6 linked regions of the Homo sapiens genome follow. The protein of the gene in region 2 purifies or fractionates together with the protein of the main gene of each other region. This does not show direct contact. Each region holds a gene or a part of one and is shown on either strand. Other genes may lie near its edges. The genes, in order: KIF11, NUTM2F, SPIN1, DNAJC3, MAGED2 and NUDT5.

The links.
Region 1: the proteins of NUTM2F (region 2) and KIF11 purify together in Homo sapiens (affinity purification with mass spectrometry; one large-scale study listed by BioGRID and IntAct). This does not show direct contact.
Region 3: the proteins of NUTM2F (region 2) and SPIN1 purify together in Homo sapiens (affinity purification with mass spectrometry; one large-scale study listed by BioGRID and IntAct). This does not show direct contact.
Region 4: the proteins of NUTM2F (region 2) and DNAJC3 purify together in Homo sapiens (affinity purification with mass spectrometry; one large-scale study listed by BioGRID and IntAct). This does not show direct contact.
Region 5: the proteins of NUTM2F (region 2) and MAGED2 purify together in Homo sapiens (affinity purification with mass spectrometry; one large-scale study listed by BioGRID and IntAct). This does not show direct contact.
Region 6: the proteins of NUTM2F (region 2) and NUDT5 purify together in Homo sapiens (affinity purification with mass spectrometry; one large-scale study listed by BioGRID and IntAct). This does not show direct contact.

The regions. Positions count from the first base shown.
Region 1 is NC_000010.11:92,596,130-92,599,629, reverse strand, and holds part of KIF11 (kinesin-like protein KIF11), read right to left. Parts: intron 2,772-3,500; exon of another isoform or gene 2,341-2,771; intron 1-2,340. UniProt on the Homo sapiens protein: Motor protein required for establishing a bipolar spindle and thus contributing to chromosome congression during mitosis. Required in non-mitotic cells for transport of secretory proteins from the Golgi complex to the cell surface.
Region 2 is NC_000009.12:94,325,845-94,330,046, forward strand, and holds the start of NUTM2F (NUT family member 2F), read right to left. Parts: upstream 2,801-4,202; 5' UTR 2,780-2,800; coding exon 2,764-2,779; intron 91-2,763; coding exon 1-90.
Region 3 is NC_000009.12:88,394,944-88,398,443, reverse strand, and holds part of SPIN1 (spindlin-1), read right to left. Parts: intron 1-3,500. UniProt on the Homo sapiens protein: Chromatin reader that specifically recognizes and binds histone H3 both trimethylated at 'Lys-4' and 'Lys-9' (H3K4me3K9me3) and is involved in piRNA-mediated retrotransposon silencing during spermatogenesis.
Region 4 is NC_000013.11:95,792,139-95,795,488, forward strand, and holds the end of DNAJC3 (dnaJ homolog subfamily C member 3 precursor), read left to right. Parts: 3' UTR 1-2,850; downstream 2,851-3,350. UniProt on the Homo sapiens protein: Involved in the unfolded protein response (UPR) during endoplasmic reticulum (ER) stress.
Region 5 is NC_000023.11:54,813,630-54,816,515, reverse strand, and holds the end of MAGED2 (melanoma-associated antigen D2), read right to left. Parts: intron 2,147-2,886; exon of another isoform or gene 2,016-2,146; intron 1,856-2,015; coding exon 1,741-1,855; intron 1,269-1,740; coding exon 834-1,268; 3' UTR 826-833; intron 636-825; 3' UTR 501-635; downstream 1-500. UniProt on the Homo sapiens protein: Regulates the expression, localization to the plasma membrane and function of the sodium chloride cotransporters SLC12A1 and SLC12A3, two key components of salt reabsorption in the distal renal tubule.
Region 6 is NC_000010.11:12,185,892-12,189,391, forward strand, and holds part of NUDT5 (ADP-sugar pyrophosphatase), read right to left. Parts: intron 442-3,500; 5' UTR 401-441; coding exon 338-400; intron 1-337. UniProt on the Homo sapiens protein: Enzyme that can either act as an ADP-sugar pyrophosphatase in absence of diphosphate or catalyze the synthesis of ATP in presence of diphosphate.

The sequences.
Region 1 (3,500 bases), on a different chromosome or scaffold from region 2:
CAAAAAAAAACTGTTAGAACTAATAAGTGAATTCAGCAAAGTAGCTGGATAGAAAGTCAACAAGCAAAATCCAGCGACGTTTCTTTTTTCTTTTTTTTTTTTTTTGAGACAGAGTCTCACTCTGTTGCCCAGGCTGGAGTACAGTGGCACGATCTTGGCTCACCACAACCTCCACCTTCCAGGTTCAAGCGATTCTCCTGCCTCAGCCTCCTAAGTAGCTGGGACTACAGGCACGCGCCACGATGCATGGCTAATTTTTGTATTTTTAGTAGAGACAGGGTTTCACTATGTTGGCCAGGCTGGCCTTGAACTCCTGATCTCGTGATCAGGAGTTGGGAGGCCCACCTTGCCTCCCAAAGTGCTGGGATAACAGGTGAGAGCCACTGCGTCCAGCCTCCAGTTACATTTTTATACACTAAGAATGAACAATCTAAAAAGGAAATTACAAAAACAACTCAATTTAAAATAGCACCAAAAAGAATAAAATATTAGTAATTAATTTAACCAAGGAGGTGAAAGACTTATAAAATGAAAACTATAAAACACTGCTGAGGCCAGGCGCAGTGGCTCACGCCTATAATCCCAGCACTTTGGGAGGCCAAGGTGGGTGGATCACCTGAGGTCAAGAGTTCGTGACCAGCCTGACCAACATGGTGAAACTTTGTCTCTAGTAAAAATACAAAAATTAGCTGGTCGTGGTGCCACATACCTGTAATCCCAGCTACTCAGGAGGCTGAGGCAGGAGAATCACTTGAACTCGGGAGGTGGAGGTTGCAATGAGCTAAGATTGTGCCACTGCACTCCAGCCTGGACAACAAGAGCGAAACTCCATCTCAAAACAAAAACAAACAAAAAAAAACTGCTGGCAGAAATTAAGGGGCATAAATAAATGGAAACACATCCCTTGTTCATGAACTGAAAGACTTAATATTGTTAAGATGCCAATACTACCCAAAGTGATCTATAGATTCAATGTAATCCCTATTAAAATCCCAATGACGTGTTTTACAAAAATAGAAAAATTCATCCTCAAATTCATATGGAATCCCAAGGGAGTCCAGATAGCCAAAACAATCTTGAAAAAGAACAAAGCTGGAGGACTCACACTTCCTGATTTCAAAACTTACTACAAAGCTGCAATAATCAAAACCATGTGGTACTGACATAAAGACAGACTTATAGACCAATGGAACATAACAGCACTTAGAAATAAGCCCTCTTACATATGAGCAAATGATTTTTAATAAGGTTGCCAAGACCATTCAATCAGAAAAAGACAAGCTTTTCACCAAATGGTGCTGGGAAACTAAATATCCATATGCAAAAGAATGAGGTTGGACCCTTATCTAACACAATATACAAATATTAACTCAAAATGGATCAAAAATGTATGTAAGACCTAAAGCTATAAAACTCTTAGAAGAAAACATAAGGCAAAAGCTTCACAACAATGGATTTGGCAATGATTTCTTGGATATAACACCAAAGATACAGGGAACAAAAACAAAAAGACAAACTGGACTTCATAAAAATTTAAAATGTTTGTGTATCAAAAGACAGCATCCCTGTGATCCCAGCTACCTGGAAGGCTGAGGTAGGAGGACTATTTGAGTCCAGGAGTTCACAACAAGTCTGGGCAATAAAGCAAGATACTATATTTAAAGGGGAGAAAAAAAAAATAGCCCAGGCACGGGCTCACGCCTGTAATCCCAGTACTTTGGGAGGCCAGGGTGGACGGATCACCTGAGATCAGGAGATCAAGACCAGCCTGACCAACATGGTGAAACCCCATCTCTACTAAAAATACAAAATTAGCCAGGCGTGGTGGCGCATGCCTGTAATCCCAGCTACTCTAGAGGCTGAGGCAGGAAAATGGCTTGAACCCAGGAGGCGGAGGTTGCAGTAAGCCAAGATCGTACCAATGCACTCCAGCCTAGGCAACGAGAGCAAAATTCCGTCTCAAAAAACAAACAAACAAACAAACAAACAAACCCAAGGGAAAAAAAAAGACTTTATCTTCCTTTTCTCCATCATAGTGCAAGATCAAGGTAAAAAAAAGAGAACTCTGGCCAGATGAGGGCTCACACTCATAATCCCAGCACTTTGGGAGGCCAAAATGGGTGGATCACTTGAGGCCAGTAGTTCAAGACCAGCCTGGCCAACAAGGCGAAACCCCATCTCTACTAAAAATACAAAAAATTAGCCAGGCATGGTGGTGCACACCTGTAATCCCAGATACTTGGGAGGCTGAAGCATAAGAATTGCTTGAACCTGACAGGCAGAGGTTACAGTGAGCCGAGACTGTGCCACTGCACTCCAGCCTGGGTGACAGAACGATTTTCTGTCTCAACATCTGTATGGAGGAGACTGGAGATGACTGACCCCAGCAGCCAAGGTGTTGGAGCAGCTCATAGGCCAGACCCCTGTGTTCTCCAAAGTCAAATACATTGTCAGATCCTTTGGCATCAGGAGAAGTGAAGATTGCCACCCACTGCACAAAGGGCCAAAGCAGAAGAAACCCTGAAGAAAGGTCTAAAGATGCAGGAGTGTGAATCAAGAAAGAACAACTTCTCAGATACTGGAAACTTTGGTTTGGAGATCCAGGAACACACAGATTTGGGTATCAAATGTGACCCATGCATTGGTATCTACAGCCTGGACTTCTGTATGGTGCTGGGTAGGCCTGGTTTCAGCACTGCAGACACATAGCACAGAACAGGCTGCACTGGGGCCAAACACAGAATCAACAAAGAGGCCATGCACTGGTTCCAAAAAGAAAAAGAAAGGAAAAGACCACACGGTATCAATGAGTAAAAAGGCAAACCACAGTAATGGGGAAAAAATTTTTGCCGTTTATGTATCTGAAAATATCCAAAATATATAGAAAATTCCTAAAACTCAACAACAAAAAAGCAAACCAATTTAAAAATGGGCAAAGGACTTAAACAGACATTTCTCCAAAGATACACAAAATGGCCAGTAAACACATGAAAAGATGCTCAACATCATTAATCATTAGGGAAATACAAATCAAAACTACAATGAGATAGCACCTCACACCCAATGGATGGCTACTTGAAAAAAAAAAAAGAAACAGAAAATAAACGTTGGTGAGGATGTGGAGAAATTGGAACCCTTATGCACTGTTGGTAGGAATGTAAAATGGTCCAGCCACTGTGGAAAATAGTTTGTCGGTTCCTCAAAAACTTTAAAATAGAATTATCATATGATCCAGCAATTACAATTCTGGGTAAATACCCAAAAGAATTGAAAACCCATATTCATAGCAACATTATTCATAATAGCTAAAAGTAAGAAGTAACTCAAGGCCGGGCTCCGTAGCTCACGCCTGTAATCCCGGCTCTTAGGGAGGCCAAGGCGGGCAGATCACAAGGTCAGGAGATGGAGACCATCCTGGCTAATATGGTGAAACCCCGTCTCTACTAAAAATACAAAAAATTAGCCGGGAGAGATGGCAGGCGCCTGTAGTCCCAGCTCCT
Region 2 (4,202 bases):
CGGGAGCGGGTGTGGCAAAGGGCAGAGCCGTGAACACAGACAGGGAGGTGCCAGGGTTCACGGTCACGCCGGGTCCCAGCACTGGGTATGCTGTGGAGACAAAGGAAAGAGGTGAATGAGCTGGCGTCTCCAGGTCCACACTAGTCACTGGGGAATCAGGGGAGTCCCAACAGCTGAGGGCATGTGACAGGGAAACTCTGCAGCTTGCAAGTGTCCCTGAGTGTGCATCAGATGCTCTGTTCCTCCACGGCAGAGTCGCTCCACTAGAGAGCCTGGCGCCAGTCACCAAGACTCCCTGACCCTTGTCTGCCAAGAAGAAACAGCCAAGCCTTTGCTGTCTCTGAGGGTCTCCCTCGGGTGTCCCTGGCAGACTGCACCAGCCTCACAGGCATCTCCCAAGCCATGGGTCAGGGATGAGTCTCTCGGTGGCTTGGTGGCTCTCAGTGTGCTCAGCAGCAGGTGAGGGGCCTACCCCAGGGCAGTGCTCGGCATTCAGAAGGCCGACAGGAAACCAGAAGTTTCCGAATATTATGGCCCCATCTCCTCTTCAGTCTTCCTTTCCCTGAAGCTCTTGTAAACCCCTTTCTTTCCTAGCTCAACACAACAAAAGAAAACCACTGGATAGGCCGGGCGTGCTGGTTCATGCCTGTCATCCCAGCGCTTTGGGAGGCCCAGGCGGGTGGATCACCTGAGGTCAGGAGTTGAAGACCAGTCTGGCCAACGTGGTGAAACCCCGTCTCTACTAAAATACAAAAATTAGCTGATGGTGCGTGCCTGTAATCCCAGCTACTCAGGAGGCTGAGACAGGAGAATTGCTTGAACCGAGGAGGCAGAGGCTGCAGTGAGCCGAGATCGTGCCACTTCATTCCAGCCCGGGTGACAGAGCGAGACTCCGTCTCAAAAAAAAAAAAAAAAAAAAAAAAGAAAACCACTGGATGGAAACTCACCCAAGCCAGTGCCCTAGGAACCCTGAAGATAACCCATAACACATCACGCCCAGCATGCAAGTGATTGTCCTGGCACCACCCACACAAGTGTTAAATAGGGGTCAGATTCAGGCCACCCATTCCTCAGTGCTCAGTGGTCCCAGCTGCCACTCAGGAAGCTCAGTTCCCAGGGAGCAGATCTGAGAAGCAGTGGTGGAGTCCCCTGAGATATTGTCATTGTGTAGCCAGCAACAGCTGCACATGACTAGAACACAGCCAGCAAATGGTGAGCAGCAGGGCTATCAGGGGAGGTGTCTAGGGATTTTCTTTTTTTTCTTTTTTTTTTTTTTTGAGACGGAGTCTCGCTCTGTCACCCAGGCTGGAGTGCAGTGGTGCGATCTCAGCTCACTGCAACCTCTGCCTCCCAGGTTCAAGCACTTCTCCTGCCTCAGCCTCCTGAGTAGCTGGGATTACAGGCGCCCGCCACCATGCCCAGCCAATTTTTGTATTTTTAGTAGAGACGGGGTTTCACCATATTGGTCAGGCTGGTCTTGAACTCCTGACCTCGTGATCCACATGCCTTGGTCTCCCAAAGTGCTGGGATTACAGGCGTGAGCCACCGCGCCCGGCCAGGGATTTTCACAGCTGCTAGTCATGTTACACTAAATAGTGGGACAGGGAGCCCATCTCTGGTCCTTCTCCTTTGAGCTCCCAGTAACTGAACATAGGGACCAACGAAGAACCAGGGGTTCTTGGGCCACAGGCCAGGTGAGGCAGAGTTGTCTGGAACTCATCCCTGTTCACTAGGACCTCATGCAGTCTCTAGCCAAGGGGAATAAGGGATACAGCACATGCACCTCATCAGTCAGGACACACATCCTAGTTTGAATAATAATAATAATAGGACTGTCTTCCTATTTGTGCGCTACTCTCCTTCCTCTACTGAAAAGGAAACCAGCCTTTTCAGAGCCTTCCACTGAGAACCAGCAAGAATCCACACCTGTCGCCCGTTCATGAGGTAGTATAAATGGAACAGGAGCAAATTCTTCACCTCCACAGTAACACAAAGTACAGAGGACGGGCCATGAGCTAGCTGACGAGAGGAAGTGGGTCTGAAGACCTGAGCTTCCACCAAAGGGCAAACAATTCAGAACAACTCAGGAAACCCAGGCCCTGTGTTGCCTGAACTTCCCCATTCTGCCCCCACCCCTGTTAAATCAAAGCCAACAGCTACCTGAACTGACGGAGAAGCCATCTCTGGGGAGGAAGCTGAGAGGCTCTGGGCTGTGGCAGTTGCAGTGGCCCCCAGCCTTGCCCACCCAGAGGCTGTCACTACATGCTCTGTCACAGCCAACCCACCCAACAGTTTTCTGGCTGAGACCACTTCTCCCCACTCCTCTCTAAGAACTAGAAAACTCCAGTCCAAATCCCTCTAAACACTATGGAAGGGCACCTTCCAGGTGCCTGAAGACACGGCACAGGGCTCAGGCTTGCCCGTCATTCTCCCTGGGCCACCAGCACAACACGATCCCACCACTCCCTACAAACACAATGACGTGACCTGTCCCCCTCTAGAAAGGATCAACCCATCCTCTCCATCCTTTCCACTACACGGTGTATTCCCCCAGGCATCTTGGTCCGCCTCTAAGGAGCCCTCCTCCCTAACCACAGACTCAGGGTGCCATGGCCATCCCCAGGTGTGATGTCCCTGGGGACATCCAGTGCTCCCTCCCTCAACATCAGCCCTATAAGCTGTCCCCAGGGACAGTTCAAATTTGAATTCCCAAGGAGTTGAGGCAAGGCAGACTCGGATAATGCCCCATCCCTACAGGCTCACCTCCATTTGAAGCCATCCCCTCAGGCTGGGCACTGACCACCACTGTCTGGCAGCTTCCGCAATGAAAAAAGTCAAGGGCAGGACCCAGAGAGTGACCTGACTCAGCAGATCCTCCTGAGTCCAAGTGGAGCAGGGATAATTTGCATATAAACAGGTTTGGAACACAGGACCCCAGACATTCTGCAGAGGGGGAGGGGCAGTGGGCAGCCGGGCTTGGCGGGGGTGGGGGACATTCTGTGAAGGGCTCTGGCCAGTAGGCAAGAACCTGAGGTTCCCTTGGTTCAGTTGGTTGCCATCCAACTGGATGGCAGCAACACAGACAGTGTGCGCCTCTTTAGGCAACTTTTAAATTGTCCTTCTGACTCACAGCAAAAGCTTCTACCTGATGTCCCCTTTACTTCCATTCTTTATCAACAGACCTACTTTTGTGCCAATCAACCCATGCTCCTTCCCACTTTGGCTCTTTCCCACTCTTGATGAATTTCAACAGGGGCCACACTTACTTAACAAAATTCAGAACACGTTTTCAGTCTGAGAAACACAGGGGTTCTTAGGAAGGCAAGGGGACTGAGTGTTTGAAATCAGAATGGCCTCAGCTGATCCAGGCTATTAGGTGGCTGTGTGCTCATCATTGTTTAGGAAGCAGTCCTTGTGCCCCCAGGTCATGTATGTTGCTGGAATCTGTCCACACCAGTAGGCCAGCCTTACTTCCCGTCCCCTTTCTTAGGAAGACTCAGTCCAGGAAAGAGAGGCTATGTGACCTACAGCACCGAGACCAGAAATCCTTTCATTTTGTTTCCCAGCATATTGTGCTGGTGTTAAATGTTTATTTTGTATCTTTTACATGATTTTAACTTAACTAAGCAATACTTTTGCATGGTTCCAAATTCAAATTGTGCACAGTGGAATAGACAATGACCAGCCTTCCTCCCACCTCTTTTCTCTGGCCACCACATTTTCTTTCCTGGAGGAAATAGGTGTTATCTGATTCTTTTTCATCTTTCCAGAGATATATTATGCAATCAAAAGCATAATGAAGCTATTTTTGCTGTCTAAAAATATTTTCAGTTTTTTGGGGGTAAAAATTAATATATTAATATGTTCTAGTATTCTTCTGATATTTGCAGTGACTGTATTTGTCCCAGTAATGTGGTTCCTCTCTTTATTTCTGTAGGTAAATTGCTAGAATGAGATGTTGGACTGTTTTTTAAAATTAAAAATACATGAAAGAACATAGTGGCCAGATTTAGCAAGTATGAATAAAGAATACCAAGTGGAATTTGAATTGAAGATAAACAGTGAATTAGTTTTTACTATAATTATGATCCATATGACATTTAGAGTACACTTTTACAAAAAAAAAAATCTGTCCTTTATCTGTGCTATTCACATTTCACTGGGATCTTGCACTTTATCTGGTAACTCTTCCCAAAAAAGTG
Region 3 (3,500 bases), 5.9 Mb from region 2:
ATTCAGACACTGAGCTAGATACCAGAAAAGTAATTACAGGCAAAAACAGGAATGGTTCTGCTTTCATGAAACTCAGCCTTTGTGGGAAAACTAAAATTAATTAAATCACATAAACTAATATAACATTGTAATTCTGATAAGCACCAAGAGGACTTGACTGCAGAAAAGTCAAAAAAATTCAAGAACTTCAGACAGCCAGGCACGGTGACTCATGCCTGTAGTGCAGTGGCACAGGTGGGAGGCTGAGGCAGCACTTTGGGAGGCTGAGGCAGGTACACTGCTTGAGTTCAGGAGCTCGAGACCAGCCTGGGCAACAAGGCAAAATCCCGTCTCTACTAAAAATACAAAAATAAACTAGCCAGGCATGGTGGCACATGCCTGTAGTCTCAGCTACGCGGGAGGCTGAGATGGGAAGATCACCTGAGTCCGGGAAGGTCGAGGCTGCAATGAGCCAAAACTGTGCCACTGCACTACAGCCTAGGCAACTGGAGTGAGACCTCGTCTCAAAAAAACAACTTCAGGCTGGGCACGGTGGCTCACACCTGTAATCTCAGCACTTTGGGAGGCAGAGGAGGGCAGATCACTTGAGGTCAGGAGATGGCGACCAGTCTGGCCAACAAGGTGAAACCCTGTCTCTACTAAAAATACAAAAAAATTAGCCAGGCATGGTGGCACGCACCTGTACTCCCAGCTACTTGGGAGACTGAGGAGTGAGAATTGCTAGAACCTGGGAAGTGGAGACTGCAGTGAGCTGAGACCGCACCACTGCACTCCAGCCTGGGAGACAGAGCAAGACTGGGGAAAAAAAAAAAAACACTTCAGACAACTGATGCTTGTTGGAGTCGGTGATGAATATCAGTACAGTCCAATCTCTTTATCTTATGAAAATGTGCAAGCACGCACACAGAAAATTTCATTAAAAGTGATGCTTGAGCCAAACTCTAAAGACCAGGAATAACTGTTAACAAAGAAAGGCATTCCAGGCAGAGGAAAAGAACAAGTGCCAAGATTCCTGGTGGAGAATATGGTGAGCACAGGAGAATGAAGGAGGCCCCACACAACTGGAGCAAAGGAAAGCAAGGGGAAAAACAGTACAAGATGAGGCTGAGGCCCAAAAGTAATTAGTCATGCACCACCTAATGACATTTCTGTCAACACAACAGACCACATATACTACAGTGGATCCATATTATGAGGCTGTTTTAAGCTACGTGTTATTTAAAAAGACAGAAAGTTTAAAAAAAAGTTAAAAAGCTTATTAAGTTAAAAAAATTACAGTAAGCTAAGGTAAATTACTGAAGAAACTTTTTATAAATTTAGTGTAGCCTAACTGTAGTGTTTACATACAGTCTACGGTAGTGTACAGTAATGTTCTAGGCCTTCACATTCACTCACCACTCACTCACAGACTCAACCCAGAGCAACTTCCAGTCCTGACAGCTCCATTCATGGTTCAGTGCCCTACACAGGCATGCCATTTCTCTTTTATACCACATTTCTACTGTACTTTCTCTGTCCTTAGATATGTTTAGATAAATAAATACCTACACAGCACTGTGTTCCAATAGTCTACAGTATTCAGTTCAGTCATATGCTGTACAGGTTTGTAGCCTAGGAGCATTAAGCCATATTACATAGCCTAGGTGCCTAGTAGGTTGTCCCATATAGGTTTGTGTAAGTATACTCTATGAGGTACACAACGAGGTTCTCTGAATGTATCCCATTGTTAAGGGATGTAAAGCTATATGTACACCAACTATATGTGTACCCTTGAGGCTACATTATAAACTTTTGTCCTTAAGGCACTGGAAAGCCATTTAGAGTTTTTCTGTTTTGTTTTCTGAGACGGAGTCTCACTCTGTTGCCCAGTCTGGAGTGCAGGGGTGTGATCTCAGCTCACTGCAGCCTCCGCCTCCCAGGTTCAAGCAATTCTCCTGCCTCAGCCTCCTGAGTAGCTGGGATTACAGGCATGCGCCACCACACCTGGCTAATTTTTGTATTTTTAGTAGAGACGGGGTTTCACCATGTTGGCCAGGCTGGCCTCAAACTCCCAGCTTCAGGTAATCCGCCCACCTCAGCCTCCCAAAGTGCTGGGAGTACAGTACAGGTGTGAGCCACCGCACCCACCTGGCCACCATTTAGAGTTTTAAGTAAAAAGCTGACATGGTCAGATCTGCCTTTTAAAAATGTAATTTTTTTTTTTTTGAGATGGAGTCTCACTCTGTCACCCAGGCTGAAGTGCAATGGCGCGATCTCAGCTCACTGCAACCTCCACCTCCCAAGTTCAAGTGACTCTCATGAGGAGTAGCTGGGATTACAGGCGCAGGCCACCATGCCTGGCCAATTTTTGTATTCTTAGTAGAGACGGGTTTTTTTGTTGTTGTTGCTGTTGTTTTTGAGACGGAGTCTCCCTCTGTCACCCAGGCTGGAGTGCAGTGGCGCAATCTCAGCTCACTGCAGTCTCTGCCTCCCAGGTTCAAGTGATTCTCTTGCCTCAGCCTCCCGAGTAGCTGGGATTACAGGCACGCGCCACCACGCCAGGCTAATTTTTGTATTTTTAGCAGAGATGGGGTTTCACCACGTTGGTCAGGCTGTTCTTGAACTCCTGACCTCATGATCGGCCCACCTCAGCCTCCCAAAGTGCTGGGATTACAGGTGTGAGCCATCACACTGAGCCTGAAAATGTAATTTTTTTAGGCTGTATTGATGCCTGACGCCTGTAATCCCAAGTTTTTTGGGAAGCCCAGGTAAAAGAACTGCTTGGGGTCAGGAGTTCAAGATCATCCTGGGCAACACTGTGAGACCTCATCTCTACAAAAAATTAAAAAGTTTTAAAAAGAAAATGTAACATTTTGACACTAACAAAACTACAAATGTGTTTACCTTTCACCCCACATCTATCTTAAAGCTGTATCTGCACAAATAAAAAACAATATACCCACAAGGTTATTCATTGCCGCAATATTTATAACAGCCAAGAGAATATAAACAACCCAAATGTTCATCATTAGGAGATGAGTTGCAAGCACGCACTTCAATGAAGCGCTCTCCAGAATAAATTAAGTAAAAGGGAGCAGTGTGCATAGAACGGCAGAGCAGTGTGCATAGAACGCTGCCTATTGTGTAGGAAAGGGAAACAAAAATATACACATATGCTTACATTTGCAAAAATGAAATATCAGAAAAACAAAGCAAAAACAACTGGGGCAAGAGAGAAATTCGTGGAGGAACAGAATTAAAGTGAAGCTGTGAACATAACTTTTTAACACAGATCAGATTTTTTAACTACATAAATGTTCACATAAATGTTCTACATGTTAAAAAATACATTAAATAGGCCAGGCGCGGTGGCTCACGCCTGTAATCCCAGCACTTTGGCAGGCCGAGGCGGACAGATCACGAGGTCAGGAGATCGAGACCATCTTGGCTAACATAGTGAAACCCCGTCTCTACTAAAAATACAAAAATTAGCCGGGCGTGGTGGCGGGCACCTGTAGTCC
Region 4 (3,350 bases), on a different chromosome or scaffold from region 2:
GGCAAGGTTAGTCAGGTCTGGCTATATTTCCACTGTTGTTTCATTTAATAAGATGGCATCTCCTCTTGAGATATGTTCTTCTTACCTTTTAAGAAGATACTATTTAAGAAGTGAACTATTCAGTCTTTGTATACTGAATGCTTTTTCCCTAAAAAATGTTAATCAAGAATATTGAATATTTATGGCACTCTTGATGCTGCATTTGAAAGCTGAAGGAATTACTTTAGATAGATAGGAATTGCTACCTTTATTCTGGAAAGGTTTTGTTTCTGCCTCAAAGCATTTTGAAGTGTTTTAACCATTAAAGGGTCTAATTTTTTTTTCTTAATGAAATCAAGCATTTTAATTCACTGTGGGAGGCATCCTGACCACGGACATCCATAACAGCAAAGCACAAATCGTTTTCGTCTGTAGTCATATCCTGAAACATAGGTGGACAAATTTTTAACTGAGAGACAAAAATCACATAGTTGAATTGAGCAGAACACTTAAGTGCTTTCTGCATCTATTTAGGAGTCTATTTCTTACCAATAAACTTGACAACGCATTTGGAAAACTAGTGAACACCTTACAGCTTTCATTTTGCTTTAATGTTTCAATTCAAGCCGGTGTAAAAATAATTTCCAAGGCATTTCTGTTTATTCTTTAGTAATCTCACTACTGGCTATGTCAGCAATATCTTTTTCAATCTGGTTCCTTTTGTATATGATGTCACTGTGACCTCTTTGAAATATAGTGATGGCTTTTACCTACTTTGAAAAGAATTTTCACATAGAGTCAGAAAAAAAAGGAAATATCAAATCACTTGCCTTTCCACTTGGAGAGCACGACAGTTGCCAACAACAAGGGGTCAAGGGCCGCACAGGAGATGTGTGGGGGCCTGGCCACCTCCCACCTGCTGCCCAGAGGCTTGTTTGCATTTTCATTTTTTCTCCACTTGTAACAACCATAGTTTCAGCTCCTAAATTCTTATCATGGATTTACTTAGTCATCTTAACTGACCTGCAGTTACTTGCCTGTTTTCAGTGAAGAGAGAGAAGCAGCTCTGGTGCCACATGCCAGTGCCATGGAGGGAAATGAATTCTCTGCAATCTGTTGTTTCGCTGATTCATGAAGAAAGTAACAACTGTTGAGTTTCAGCCTTGATGGCTGTCGGCAGTTTTCTGGTGTCCACCCAAACGGAGAGACAGTCACTCCTGCTTACCCTAATGTGTGACTGAGAAGCAGCCTGGGTGTGTAAAGAGATAGTCATTCCCCCTGCCTGTCTCACTGTAGGGTAGCATTATCCACTGTAAAACCATACTACTTTCATTTTCCCTTGGGGACTACAGGTGCCAGGTAACCTTTTTTTTTTTTTTTTTTTTTTTTTGAGACAGAATCTTGCTCTGTTGCCCAGGCTGGAGTGCAGGGACACCTCCCGGGTTCAAGCAGTTCTCCTGCCTCAGCCTCCAAGTAGCTGGGACTATAGGCACGCACCACCATGCCTGGCTAATTTTTGTATTTTTAGTAGAAATGGGGTTTCACTGTGTTAGCCAGGATGGTCTTGATCTCCTGACCTTGTGATCTGCCCGCCTTGGCCTTCCAAAGTGTTGGGATTACAGGCGTGAGCCACTGCGCCTGGCCATCAGGTAACCTTTATGGCTCTTTCAGGAAAAGTGAAATCAGAGAGGCGTACCCTAGCCACAGCTGTTGTATTCTGCTCTTCTTTCCTTTTTGGTGAGCTTCATGGGTGGAGTTATCAGTGGTCTGTACTTTGTGGATATTTTGCCCAGCAGGAAGTATTAGACACATCAGTCTAGAAGCATTGTGAAAAGGTTCCAAAACGGGAGACAAAATTTAATTCATTCCTCAGTTCTGAAAGTTTGTGCTTTCTTACCATGAATAGATGAAAACTTGAAAAAAATCTTGACAGTTTACTAATGTGAATCAGATGTAACGTACTACTAATTCTACAATGCCTTTCTCTTTAGTCAGTATTAAAAATCTTTTTTAAAGTATTGGTATGAAAACAAATTTTTGTTGCCCTGATAATGGAATTTTAAAACTACCCACAGTTTAAGAGAAAACATAACTTGGTAAAAAAGGTAGCCAATAAAACCACAATTTGAAATTGATACCATTTTCTACTCACAATGGATGATGAAAAATTTCACCTTTAAATGGGTCAGAAGTTGTCTTTGACATTTACCATGAAAAAACTACATAAAATGGCTCCCTGGTGAGGTTACAGACACGGCCCTGGTGATGGGCGTTGCAAAGTTTTCACTGAGCACACAGCAATGGTATCACCTAGAGAAGTTCACGCAACTTTGTTGAATGTAGTTGACTTTTCCAAATTTATAAAGGAAGGAAGAAGGCAAATGTTAATTTGCCAACAACGAATATCCTTTTTCTAAATCAGATCATTCCTTTTTTGTTAGTGGCAGTTTATCCTGTAATTTCAAATGACGTTAAGAGGTGGGATTATTTGGGGGTTTTTTTTGTTTGTTTACAGATGATCTCATTTGCTGAATGATTGATTTAAGAGTAAAATTAGCCACTGCGTGGCTTTGTGTATAGTAACCGGTTTTGTTGCACTTGTCTGTGGCTGAAACACTTACCTGCAGTGGAAAGCCGAGCAAGGAGGAGGTAAACATTGGAGATGTTTGTGAAAATATTACTCTTGCTGTGAGGTTTTAGTTTGTTTTGAATGAGAAAAGACTAAGTAACTTAATCCATCTCAATGTAGTGTTTTAATAAAAAAGGAACCTAATATTTGAAATGGGTCTCAGACATGTCTACAAATATGGGTACTATTTTTATGCCCGTGTATTTTCACATTTAATAAAAATATTTATGGTCATATCAGTATTTCCTTGCTTTTGATTCATTTTTGTCCTTGAGTATAAAATTCTAAGAAAGTCCGTCTTAGGAAAAGTCTATTATTTCCAGCTTTGCTTCACGCAAAACCAGTGACTGAGGTGACAAAAGGGCTCTTCCTTTACACAAGTTGACAGGGAAGGTCAGAACACACAAAGCAGAAAGGGCTAAAATAAAATCTCTTAACCCTCAAAAGTCCTAGGACAACTAAGGACTTAAAAAGTGGACAAGTCTTCCATTTCAGTGCTATTAAAATGTAACACTTAAATTGGCTTTGTCTGAAGATTTTCTCTTCTCTTTTATACCCCATTTGTACATTTCTGTTAAGGTCCTAAGTTGGGAGGAAGGAAGGACACTATAGCCTATCTATCTCAAATTTCCAGCTACAAACAGAAGGAACTGCCTTCTCAGTTAATGTATTCTGCATATCTTAAGAAAGATCCAAGGAGAGCTACGATATGTAAATGTATACAGAACTTTTCCAGAAAGCT
Region 5 (2,886 bases), on a different chromosome or scaffold from region 2:
ACTTCTCCCTCTCCGTTGACTCCTCCCTACTCAAGTCTCTCTCTCCTTCCCCAAGAAAATGCTCCCTTGTTCCTGTATCTCCATTTAGCTCTGTACCCCTCTCTCTCCTCATTCAAATTTCTCAAAAAGGGATTCTATATTTGATGTCCAGTCTCCTCTACTTACACTTTCTGCTCTAGACTTGCCGACCTCAAGCCTCTCCTTCAAAGTGTGTCCTCTGTAACTACAATCTCTTGAACTCCACCCCACTAAAATCCCACCACCCTGAAGGCTAGACGTGATGCCCAATCTATCCCAGAAAGGTGTGTTAATCTCGCTCCTGGGAATCCAACAATTAGACGTGAGGCCCAATCTATCCCAGAAAGGTGTGTTAATCTCGCTCCTGGGAATCCAACAATATCACCTCAAACTAAACACAGACTGAGGTGGAAACTTTCCCAACTCACTGATTTTTAAATGTGATACCAAAATGTGACAGCCCGCCAAAAAAAGCAATAAACTCAGAAATGGCAAATAGATTTAATGCAGAGTGTCAACTTCAATTGATTGATAGTGGCTGCCTAGAGTGCTGTGTTGAGTAGGTTTCTGAGGATGCACCCTGGCTTGAAGAGAAAGACTGGCAGGATTAACAATATCTGAAAACACAAGTAAGAGAAAATAAAAGGGTCAATTGACATCCAGCAAACAGAAAGGAATAAAATGCCAAAAGCAGTGTCTTGGCACACTCTCCACATCATTCTCCAACTTGGGCCTTCCTAGAATCATCCAGCTCCTCATCCCAGCCCCATAAGCCCCAGATGTCCCCACTGAAACCAAGGCAGATACCTAAAATCTCACTTGTAGGAGAAACCACAGGCACCAGAGCTGCCACTGGTGCTGGCACCAGCTCCACCAAGGCCAGCGAAGAGCCCAAATGTGAGAGTGGCGGTCAGGCTGGCACCAGCACTGAAGCCACCACTGGTGCTGGCACTGGCACTGGCACTGTTATTGGTACTGGTACTGGCACCAGTGCTGGCACTGCCACTCTCTTGGGCTTTGGCTTTAGCTTCTGCTCCCGCCTGGATCCGGGCTTTGGCCCAGGGTCCGATATCAGCTTCGTCCCAGTTGCAGGGCCCGGCAGCATTCTCCGAGCCGAGCCCAATGCCCATTCGAGCTCTAATCTCGGCCCTAGCCTTGGCTTCAGCTGCAGCCTCAGCTGCAGCCTTCAAATCCGCTTCCATCGCCTCTCGGTACTGAGCTGCCCATTCCTTGGGATCCTTCTTTTGTACCTGAAACAAAAATAACCATCAGAAGGAGCATAGAGGGATTAAGCCATAGTAATAATACAGTATTACTATGTAAATAACCATCAGAAGGAGCATAAGAGGATTAAGCATCTACCTTTATGCTAGGCACTATGCTACATGCTTAGTATAAAAAGATAATAGTAATAATACAGTATTACCAGTAATTATGCACCTAATATTCCATCCCTGCTCTGACACTTCCTAGCCCCATGACTTTGGACATGTCACCTACCAACCTTTCTGGGCCTCGGTTTTCTCATCTGTAACAGGGCAATGACATATCAGGTTGTAAGGCTTAAATGATTCAGATAAAGTGCCTGTTACAGTGTTTTGACAATTAACAGAAGCACCAAAACATTCAGATTTGAACTGCAGGCTGCTCTGCACACAGCCTGCCCCAGCCAGGGGCACCCCATGCTCTTGACTTGCCAAGCTCAAGGAGCTCTCCAATTACCTTGCAGGCAAACTTGAGGACTTTCATCTTGCTGGTCTCATAGTAAGAGCGCAGGCCCCAGAAGAACTCATATTCAGGGGGATTGCTATTGGGGACTCTGGCATAGTCCAGGTACCTTGGAAAGAGAGGTTCAAAGCCTTTATTTCTAAGACCATTCATGGCCTACCCATGCATAGACTGGACAGGCTCCAGATGGCAACATCATCCACTAATTACTACAGTCTTTCTTCCAATATTGAGCCCTGTCCCACTGGTCTTGCCCAGAAGCCACATAGAGGTGTTGGGGGACGTTTGTTCATAGGGAAGCCACAAGTTTGACGCCCTCATCACAATGACCCCAGATTCCTGTTGGGTGTGTTGTAAACAGAGGAGCCATTCTTTGGGCCCCCTGCTCTGAGCACACCCCACTGCAAGTGTCTTGGCCTCAGCCTGGCCAAGCCCAGAAAGGTCCACCACAGAAAATGACCAGAAAGACTACAGAGGAAGAACAGCCAATAGCAGCATGCTTCACACATGCTGAATTCCTGACCCTTTGTGTGTGTTTCTGTGTGCACATGCGTGTGGCTGTGTGAGTGTTTGCATGTCCTCCAAGGACCAAGGATAGGTGAGCTTTGGCCAGAAATTCAAGAGGACTGGGCTCCAGGCCCATACCAGCTGTGGGCCATGCTCAGATCTCCCTTCTCGGAGCCCCAGGTCCCTCAACTGTAAAACGGGGATGGGATGACAGCTGCAGGGTAGTTATGAAAATGAAATGAGATGTACAAGTCAACTCCCCAGCATGGTACCTGGTTGCCTGAAGCTACCATTCTATGTCATTTCTTTACGGAAATTAATTTCTATGAAGCTCTAGTTAGCAGAATAAAAAGAACTAAGGCTTTGGAGCCAAGTTCTAAACATAACTCTTCTACTTGCTACCTGTGTAACCCTGACCAAATGACTTCACCTCTCTAAACCTCAGTTTCTGCATACGTACAATGATGGTAATGATAATCCCTCCCTTGCAGAACTGGTCTCAAGACAAATGTTGAGGTATATGTAACAGATCAGGAAACATGTGCTGCTCCTGTTTCCCATCACCGCCCAAGGAATAATCCCACCTGCATACATGCAAATATGCAAATACATACACACATAGACACATGCATC
Region 6 (3,500 bases), on a different chromosome or scaffold from region 2:
CCATCAACAGCCAAGTTGTGACAACTACATATGAAATATCTGAGTCCGCAAATGCATATATTCTTTCTTCTTCTATCTAGGGAAATACAGGAAGGATTAAGAATTTTTCTGTTAAGAGCCCAAATCTCCTAGAGTCTCAATTTCACTAATACACAGAGAGACACACTACTCCTCCCACACAAGAGCAAAATGTGCCCGAGCCCAAAAAAGGGAGTAGGAAAAATCTTTACAACTGTCTTCAAGAATGAAAGACCACCATTGTAACAACAGTCTATATATTTCTGCTAAACTCAGATTTATGTGGGGGAGGGAAGGGAAAGTGAAAAACAAGTTATACCTCCTCTGAAATGATATACTGTTTGCCATTCTGAGAAGATTCCGTTGGTTCTTGGCTCTCCATTTTCAAACGAGTCTTTACAGCCCTCAGGTGAGAAGTTCACCCTGCAAGATAATGAGATTTGTTCAGGCTAAAATTATTTTTCTGAATTAAACATTCGTCCACAGGACACTAGTCAAAGTACTTAAACGGCAAAAAATTCATCTACCATCAACGCTGCCTGTCTCAGTATGTGAGGGAACTGCCGCAGGTGGAAATGTGAACAGGGAGGCCCGGGGATTAGCCAGGAAGGAAGTGACAGCAGTCCTAGTCACCCTCAGCCACAACAGCCAAGCTCCTGCCATGCCTGTTCTAGGCACTTAGAGGCCACCCTTCTTCATCAGATTTTTCTTTTTTTTTTTTTCTTTTTTGTTTTTTTTGAGAGAGTCTCACTCTGTTGCCCAGGGTGGAGTGCAATGGCGCGATCTCAGCTCACTGCAACCTCCGCCTCCTGGGTTCAAGTGATCCTCGTGCCTCAGCCTCCCGAGTAGCTGGGATTACAGGCATACATCACCAGGCCTGGTAATTTTTATATTTTTAGTAGAGACAGGGTTTCACCACGTTGGCCATGCTGCTCTCAACCTCCTGACATCAAGTGATCTGCCCTCCTTGGCCTCCCAAAGTGCTGGGATTACAGGCGTGAGCTACCGCGCCCAGCCTGATTTTTCTGACTCCGAATCTTAAACTCTTTCCAAGGGAAGACAGAAGAAAGATTTACCACTCTCCATGCCCACCTCTCAGTCTTTTATCCATCTGTTACACCTAAACTTACTTATTTTTTGAGATGTAAGATCTCACTCTGTTGCACAGGTTGGAGTGCAGTGGCGAAATCATGGCTCACTGTAGCCTCTACCTCCCAAGCTCACGTGCTCCTCGCATCTCAGCCTCCTGAGTAGCTGGGATTACAGGTGCATGCTACCACAGCCAACTAATGTTTTAAACTTTTGGTAGAGGTGGGGTCTCACTATGTTTCACAGGCTGGTCTCAGACTCCCGGGCTCAAGCGATCCTCCTCCCGCCTCGGTGTCCCAAAGTGCTGGGATTACAGGCATGAGCCACTGGACCCACCTCCCCACTTACTTTTAAGTTTCAGCATGTATCAAAGTCATAGTTGCAGAGAAAGGATCGAGTAGTACTACAAGTTCTGTTATGAAAAGAGCAGGCCCTTATCCCATTTATTGTATATTATTATTTCCTCTTTCTTTATTCCTTCATTTTCGGACCTTGCCTGTCCGAAGGTCAAAGTCTTTTTTTCTTACCCACACACATGGTTGTTAATTCAGCTGTATATAGAATTATAGACCCAAAGCCAGTTGTCTATGAAACTGTAAGGCATTGCTTAGTTGTCTTACTTCTGGTGCTGCTGTTGAGAAGTCCAAAGCTATTCTTATTCTTGATCTTTTTGCCATGTGACCTGTCTTCCTCCTCTGGAAGCTTGTAGTTAGTCACTTTCATGTCGATGTTATTGTACTGGGAAGTCAAGTGGGTCCTTTCAATCTGGAAACTTCTTACTATGCTTCTTTACAGGGAATTTTTTTCTTGAACGACTTCACTGATGATTTCCTCCCCTGTGTTTTCTCTGTTGTTTCTTTTAAGAACTGTTACTTGGACCAGGCACAGTGGCTCACACCTGGAATCCTAGCCCTTTGGGGGACCAAGAGTCTGAGACCAGCCTGGGTAACATGGCAAAACCCTGTCTCCACAAAAATAAAAAATAAAAAAATTAGCCGGGTGTGGTGGTGGGCACCTGTAGTCCCAGCTACTCAGGAAGCTGAGGCAGGAGGGTCATTTGGACCCAGGAGTTGGGGGTTGCAGAGAGCCGAGATCACGCCACTGCACTCTTACGTTCCACGGTTCTCTAACCTACCCCACCTAACTTCGGCTTCAAAGAAAATACAGCCCACCCAGCATCAACTCTCTTCCCAACTGTCCTAAAGGAAAAAGTGAGTCTGCTCTTTGTTTCTTCTGGGACCCAAAGTGATCATACTACCCATCTGATCTTCAATTTGTCCCCAAGACAGCAAGCTTCCCTATTCTAAAATACAATCAATAACAAAACCAACTGTATGAATATTCATAAAGTGCGTTTACAAATCAAATATCTGATTGACTATCATAGGTAACCCTTGTGGCCAACCTGTGAAAGGTGAGATGATGTTTTAGGAAAGTGGCGGTGAGGCCGGGTGCGGTGGCTCACGCCTCACGCCTACAATCCCAGCACTTTGGGAGGCCAGGGCGGGTGGATCACGAGGTCAAGAGATGGAGACCATCCTGGCCAACATGGTGAAACCCTGTCTCTACTAAAAATACAAAAATTAGCTGGACGTGGTGGGGTGCGCCTGTAGCCCCAACTACAGGGAAGGCTGAGGGAGGAGAATGGCTTGAACCCAGGAGATGGAGGTTGCAGTGAGCTGAGATCGTGCCACTGCACTGCAGCCTGGCGACAGAGCAAGACTCCATCTAAAAAAAAAAAAAAAAAAAAAAAAGTGGTGGTGAGAGGGACAAAGACCCTCACTCCCCCGGACCTCATTTTCCAGTGAGGAGAAAGGAAAAACAGTGAGGAAGAACACAAAATTTATGTCAAGTGACTCAGCGTTTCATGAAGAAAGATTAAAAAGGATGAGAAGTGTGGGGAAGATGGGAAGAGTAATCTACACGGAGTGATCAGGCAAGGCCTGTTTAATTTGGTGACTTCTGAATGGAGACCTGAAAGCAATAAGGAAGTAAACCACGTAGAAGTTTAAATATTTAGAGACAGACATTAGCATATTGAAACCTGCAGCCCTACTAAGAAAACAGGCACTTATTCCTTTGAAAGTACCATAGATGATAATTTATTAGGTAAACTTTTTTTTTTGAGATGGAGTTTCGCTCTTGTTGCCCGGCTGGAGTGCAAAGGCATGATCTCGGCTCACTGCAACCTCTGCCTCACGGATTCAAGCGATTCTCCTGCCTCAGCCTCCCGAGTACCTGGGATTACAGGCTCCTACCACTGCACCCGGCTAATTTTTACATTTTTAGTAGAGATGGGGTTTTGCCATGTTGGGCAGGCTGGCCTCGAACTCCTGACCTCAGGTGATCCACCAGCCTCAGCCTCCCAAAGTGCTGGGATTACAGGCGTGAAC